2 linked regions of the Homo sapiens genome follow. The protein of the gene in region 1 purifies or fractionates together with the protein of each later gene. This does not show direct contact. Each region holds a gene or a part of one and is shown in the gene's direction. Other genes may lie near its edges.

What was found. The genes of interacting proteins can lie anywhere in the genome.
Region 2: the proteins of ST8SIA3 (region 1) and KLRG2 purify together in Homo sapiens (affinity purification with mass spectrometry; 2 studies listed by BioGRID and IntAct, with this or other methods). This does not show direct contact.

Annotation. Positions count from the first base shown.
Region 1 is NC_000018.10:57,365,994-57,369,431, forward strand, and holds the end of ST8SIA3 (alpha-N-acetylneuraminate alpha-2,8-sialyltransferase ST8SIA3), read left to right. Parts: 3' UTR 1-2,938; downstream 2,939-3,438. UniProt on the Homo sapiens protein: Catalyzes the transfer of sialic acid from a CMP-linked sialic acid donor onto a terminal alpha-2,3-, alpha-2,6-, or alpha-2,8-linked sialic acid of an acceptor, such as N-linked oligosaccharides of glycoproteins and glycolipids through alpha-2,8-linkages.
Region 2 is NC_000007.14:139,452,674-139,456,173, reverse strand, and holds the end of KLRG2 (killer cell lectin-like receptor subfamily G member 2), read left to right. Parts: intron 1-1,959; coding exon 1,960-2,063; intron 2,064-2,466; coding exon 2,467-2,587; 3' UTR 2,588-3,484; downstream 3,485-3,500.

The DNA of each region.
Region 1 (3,438 bases):
ACCTACCAATTTCTATGGTGTAAATACTCTCATCTCAGCCAATTTCAGGCTACTAACTTAATGTCAACCAGCTGAAAACACAACAATATGTTTTCAAGAGCCAGTATAAGTTGGCTCCAATACAGCATGAGCCAGCTCCAGCATAGCACTGCCTGAACAATTTTTAAGTCAGTGAGTACCAAATAGGAGAGGCTAGCAGAGGCTTTGGAGGGACTTTTAAATGTCCCCTCCACCAAGGGAAGCATTTCCATGTTGGTTAGTTTTACTGATTTTTAGTAAAAGAGCATATTATTGGATCCCAAGGTGTTCAAATATTCCACGTGACTCTTAGGAACCTCTCAACAGACTCCCCAGTATCTTGGGAGATTACCAACTGTGGCTTTTCTAATTTCTAAGGGTGACCCTCCAGGAAAACATTCTTTAATTTAACTACCAGTTAAAACCATGTTTGGCTGATCTTTTTTAAAAAATCTATACCTATAGTTCATCACTTGTTTCCCCAACTTTGTCATTTTCCCTATCCACTTGCCCCTCATCCTTCTGACACAATAAAAAAAATACAGGTACCCACAAAACAGTGCCTGCAAAGGAGCAGGGGAAGAACAAGGCACCCAGTAAGCTCACTTGGCTCTACATATCTGGAAAGGCACTGAGGTTCCAAGGTCTCTACCCCACCAGGGGACACCCAGTAAACATCACGCTGAGAGTTTAAGTTGCACTCAACTGGAGTTGATTTGCCCTTAGAAAAGTTTCCAACGGTGAAGAAATACCACTTGGTAGGAATATCTCTGGGCAACTTCATTGCTGACTGGGCAAACTTTGTAGGATAAGGTGTCATGTGATGTAAGGCTGGACCATGAAAAACAAAAATCTACTAATACACATTTGGCCCCTGCAGTCCCCTGGCATTGAGCAATAGAGCAACTGTCCTTTCTCACCACTAGTTGTGAGTGTACTTCCAACTGAGTGTTTAGAAATCAGGTAATCTGGTAATCCACAGAACAAGCTTTGTTTGCAAATTGCAAATTTTTCTGGTAGAAGTCATTCTTAGGTGGGCTTCATTAAATCTTTGGAGAGGCAATGCTGGGAAAAAATATGCCTAATTCCTAGGACACAGTGAGTGGCCGTAAGTTGTTATCTGCATGTACTAAATCAAAATTAGATCATGAAGGACCAAATCTACTTCCGTTGCTATAATAAAATACCCTACAGGTTCTGTAAGGCATTTCTAAACTGTAAATGCTTGAAACGCAAGTTGGACATTTTCTATACTATGTGTAAAATGCCAGGTTATACCTCTATTTTCTTTCTTCCTAATGGTCATTGAAATGAGCTTGTTTCTCTACATTGAGCAAGCTACATTTTATTTTAAATGAGTCAGGTGCATGTTCAGATGTCTGTATTCCCAATACATTGCATGCAGCCTGAGCACAAGTATGCCTTCACCCTCTGGCTCTTTTCCTGACACCAAACAGAGAAGTCCACAGCTACAAGCACAAGGGGCTTGACAGGTAGGCCTTGTTTTATTATGAACAAATTCACCAGAAAACCATTCTTGAGGAACCAGCCACTCCCATAGCATTTTTAGTCTTAGGGAAGAAAATTGGCAGGGAAGAAAAATTGGCAGACAATGGGAAAGAGGTTTGGTCAACCTGCATAAGTGGAATAAAGTCATTGAAGTACTTGCAAAAAGAAGAGGGAGGTTTCCCTCTGAAGGAATCTAGACCATTTTTTAATATGGAGAATAACTGTACCCCATGTTAGAAGTGCTCTTTAGCCATATTTCAAGATCCAGATCTGAACCCATACTGTGCAGAAAAGCACAAGAGCGCTTACAGCCAAGAGCCCTGGGAGGAGTTGAGTAACAGGCTGAGATCCGGTCACCAAGCATCATTAGTTAGCACTGAAATTCTCCCAGGACACAAAACAAATGTATGGAAACATCGCAATACACTATCATTTACTCACATGGGACAACCACCTAAGTCCATAGCAAAACTTTACAGATCTAGATGTTATCTCAAGTCAGGATTCCAGATCAACATCCTCCATGTGGAGATGAGACAACTGAGGTTCAGAAAGTTGGAGTGACTTATTTGCCCAGCTAGCTAACTGGAATTAGAGTCTGGGTCTCCCAACCACTGATTCTGCTACACCACACTGTGCTGCTTCCATTAGTTAGATGGACATTGACAATTAATTGTGAAAGCATTAATTAGAAGTCAAGACAAAAGAATGTTTGTGATATCTTCTCTCGCTTAACATACTTTGATTTCACCATTGCATTTCAGCATTTTAAAGAATAGTGTATCAGTATAGAAGGAGGAGCAAAGCTCTTTAAGAGTAATGATGAAACCAAAAGGTCAAAAAGTAGAAGAATAGCGAATGTAAGTTATTAAATAAATGAGCAAGAAGTATGTGTCAGGGAAAATAAATGCTTCTTATATTGTTAATACCGTGATTCCCTGCCCGCTCACCCCGTCACTCAACACTTGATGCATTTGTTTTGGAAAGTGCCATTTTATGCTGAGATACTGGTATTGAAAACTTCCCTCTTTCCCAACTCTGTCAGAAGTTCTCTTGCTCTTTGGAAGAAGCCGAGGGCCTTAACAAATCAGACTGACCTCCCTTGTGACAGGCAGCCTCGCCTGCCCTTGGAAACAAGCTGCCAGAATGTGAGGGCCACAGAGACCCAAGAGAAGCCAGCACTGCTAGACTGAGGAACTTGTAAATATCTTCTGCTTTCTTGGTGAACAAGGACAGAGGCAATTGCGTGTATATTGTGACTGTAGTTTGTGAAGAAAATGCAACCATTTGCTTCGACAGCTCCTCAAATGTACTTGTTAAGTGTGAATGTGCCTGCCTCATTGCCTTGTGTTCCAAACACAGTACTGAATGCGTTGTTTTTAAATAAACCATTTCGTTTTGCTTTGGGAAACACTGCTGGTTGTCTGTCACATTCGGGAGAGCCCCCACACACACATACACACACATACATGTGCTAACACATACTCACATTTCATCCAGTGAAGAGATTGAATGCTTCCTCCTGTTTTATATTCTCAGTGTTTTGAGGTCGTTGGAAATTTGTAGGACCCCAGAAAGGGTGAGCTTGGCTGTCTACAGCCATGAACAAGCAGGAAATACTCAAAGTCCCTACACATAACTTTTCCATTGGTCCTTTAAATGCTAATCATGTGACAGGCCTTAACATTATTAATAATAATACATTACTCTTGAAAGTTACTATTACATACATCATTTTATTTAATGAATAATCAGGTGAGGGAGAGATGCTGAGGGAGTTGTCCCTGCTGTGCAGTTAAGTGACAAGTCAAAATGAGAACTCAGCCTGACTCCCTGTCCAGTTCTCCTTCCTCTGTACCTTTCACCCCATCCCAGGCTCTCTCTAGATCACCTCCTCATAGAACCTTCCCC
Region 2 (3,500 bases), on another chromosome or scaffold:
GTTGACTTAAACCATTTTCTTAGGGAAGAAGAACTGAGCATATGCGAAATTCATTTATACCGCTCTGCTCCTAACCTGCCTCAGTGTGAATATGTGCTTCTTGACATTGTTGTGAGTGATATGTACTTGCTAGTGTAGTCTTTTTTTTTTTACATGGCATGATTTCATATTTACATTTTCCTGCATAATGACATTTTCTATACACTTGTCATTTTTAATAGCACTATAATTTTCCATCATGTTGACATCCTATAATTTACCTTGTTATTTCTTGATTGCTGAGCGTTTGGGGAGTTTCCAGTTTTTCTTCACAAATAGCACCGTGTTATCTTTAGATAAGTTCATTTTTTTCCCTTTATATTCTTGGATTTATTTCTCAGTGAAATCACCCATTTGAGCAGGAGTGGTGGTGCTGCTCTTGTCACATAGCACCAAACGACATTTCAGAAAGAACAAGCTGATGCGGGCCGTGCCGGCATCACTGCCCCCTCCACCACGTCCCCACCCTGGGACTTAAAAGATTTAAACTTTTTTTTCCAAGTTAAAAAATCTTGGCCGGGCGCGGTGGCTCACGCCTGTAATCCCAGCACTTTGAGAGGCCGAGGCAGGCGGATCACGAGGTCAGGAGATCGAGACCATCTTGGCTAACACGGTGAAACCCCATCTCTACTAAAAATACAAAAAATTAGCCAGGCATGGTGGCGGGTGCCTGTAGTCCCAGCTACTCGGGAGGCTGAGGCAGGAGAATGGCGTGAACCCAGGAGACAGAGCTTGCAGTGAGCCGAGATCGCGCCACTGCACTCCAGCCTGGGCAACAGAGCGAGACTCTGTCTCAAAAAAAAAAAAAAAAAATCTTGGCCGGGTACAGTGGCTCACACCACTAATTCTACACTTTGGGAGGCTAAAATGGACAGATCACTTGAGGCCAGGAGCTCAAGACCAGCCTAGGCCAACACGGCAAAACCCTTCCCTACTAAAAATACGAAAATTACCTGGGTGTGGTGGTGCATGCCTGTAGTTCCAGCCTCTCAGGAGGCTGAGGCGGGAGAATCGGTTGAACCTGAGAGGCGGAGGCTGCAGTGAGCCAGGATCGTGCCACTGCACTCCAGCCTGGGTGACAGAGCAAGGCTCCATCTCAAAAAAAAAAAAATCTTAAATATATACTTTAAAACATTGTCTTTTTTGCTTTAATTCATTGTTAAAAATAGTGTGACATTGAGGGCAAATATTTAAAAGAAAAAAGTCTCCTCTAGTACCTCTCCAGCACACTTACTTTGGTTTTTGTTGTTCCTGCACATCTGCGTGTGTTATTATTATTATTATTATTATTATTATTATTATTATTATTATTATTTTGAGATAGAATTTCCCTCTTGTCAGCCCAGGCTGGAATGCAGTGGCGCAATCTCGGCTTACTGCAACCTCTGTCTCCTGGGCTCAAGCGATTCTCCTGTTTCAGCCTCCCAAGTAGCTGGGATTACAGGCGCCCGCCACCATGCCCAGCTAATTTTTTTTTTTTTAATAGAAACGGGGTTTCACTATGTTGGACAGGCCGGTCTCGAACTCCTGGCCTCAGGTAATCTGCCAGCCTCGGCCTCCCAATGTGCTGGGATTACAGGCATGAGCCACCGTGCCTGACCACCTCCCTCGCTTTCTGAGCTTCCTTGTTTCTTTGCCCACTCAATGCCCACTGAGCATCACTTAGTGGTGTTTGGCGTTCACATCCCTTTGGCTGAGACGGGGTCACCCTCATTTTGGCCCCCAGCCCTGAGCACAGAACCTGGCACCCAGCAGGCATCCAATCCAGCTTTCAAGGTTTTTTTGTTCTGCAAGTGCTGGCTTGAGCAGATCCTTCTGGATTGGCCAGCTGGGATCCTGTGGAAGCCCCAGGGAATCCGTACGCCCCAGGCAAGCCACGCCAGTGTCCAGGGGAGTGACCAGCTTACTTTTCTCCCTCAGGACTTCCTGGGCAGATACCCAGTCTCCAGGCACTCCTGGGTGGGGGCCTGGCGAGGCCCCCAGGGCTGGCACTGGATCGACGAGGCCCCACTCCCGCCCCAGCTGTGAGTGACCACGGGCTTTTCTCCCTCCTCTGCTGTTCTGGATCCTCCATTTCTCCCCAGACTCCACCTCCTTGCTGCTCCCCTAGCCTGGAATGCCACTTGGAAAGCAGCCCACGCCCATGCTCGCGGCCTGGTGCCTGATTAGACCCTGTCGCTTCACTCTTTATTTGGGTTCCCAGCACGTTCACCCAAGCAGGGTTGTCACCCCCATTTTACAGATGCGGGGTCAGCTGCCCAGGGAGGTTTGGGGATTCATCCAGTGCCACGTGGCTGACCAGTGCAGTGACTCACTCAGTGCCCAGGCCGGTAGAGGTGACAGGCACACACGCTGGAGGGTCTGGCTGGGAAGCAAGGCCCCGGCACCCTAAACACCTCTCCTCTTTCCCCTCCCATCCTTTCCCAGACTCCCTGAGGACGGCGAGGACAATCTGGATATCAACTGTGGGGCCCTGGAGGAAGGCACGCTGGTGGCTGCAAACTGCAGCACTCCAAGACCCTGGGTCTGTGCCAAGGGGACCCAGTGATCTGGGCTCTGCCTGGTCCTCAGCCTGCCAGGCAGATGCAGCACCCCCTACAGGGGAGGCCAGTTGAGAGCTTGGGCAGCCTCTTCCTGGACCCAGTTATCCAGGTCTTCATGCTCTGCTCAAGGGGGCCACATGAGCGAGCCTAGGAGCTGGACTTCAACCCAGGAAGATGCATCCGAGGGAAAGGAGATTTTCTATGGCCTCAGGCCTGAGTGCCAATATTAGTCTCCAGCTTCTGTGGATGATCGGTTTGATGACATTGGGATGGTTGTTTAGCATTTCTGTGCCTTGGTTTCATTAAAATGACAATTTCCCCCTAGAGGAAAAAGACAGGGTTAACAACCACAGCGGATTCCAATCTGGGTTCTCATTCCGGCTCATGGAAATGAGTCTGCCGTTGTTCAGTGGCAGTGGGACTTGGCAGGGATAACGTCATTGCTGTGAATTCTACTTCAGGCAGCTGGGTGTACATCGGACACAGCCTACCGGCAGCCTCTGGAAAATTAACCAAGGAAAAGGAGCGGTCAGCCCTGGAAAGAGGGGAGAGCAAGGTTTTCCTTCCCCACCCTGAGAGTTGGCAAAGGGTTGGCAGACAGGAAGGTTCTGGGTGGAGATCCCGCATGTGGGCTGGCCAGCCCCTGGCACGCTGATGCCCAAGGGTGAGACAAGGCAGAGAGGACAGGGCCACCTGGCAGGAGAAGCCAGGAGAGCACCCCAGCTTGGTAGGTGGAAGCTGAGGAGTCTGAGTGAAAAAGGAAATCAGAGAAATGCAGGCACGTTCCAGGCAGCTCTTCTACCCACAGCTGCAGAGACGACCAACCTGAAGATGTCTCCATGCTGGGGTGCAGTGAAGACCTTCAGGCTGGAGGATGTGGCTGACAGAGTTGTGTAGTTCCTTGAGTCCAGCTAGACC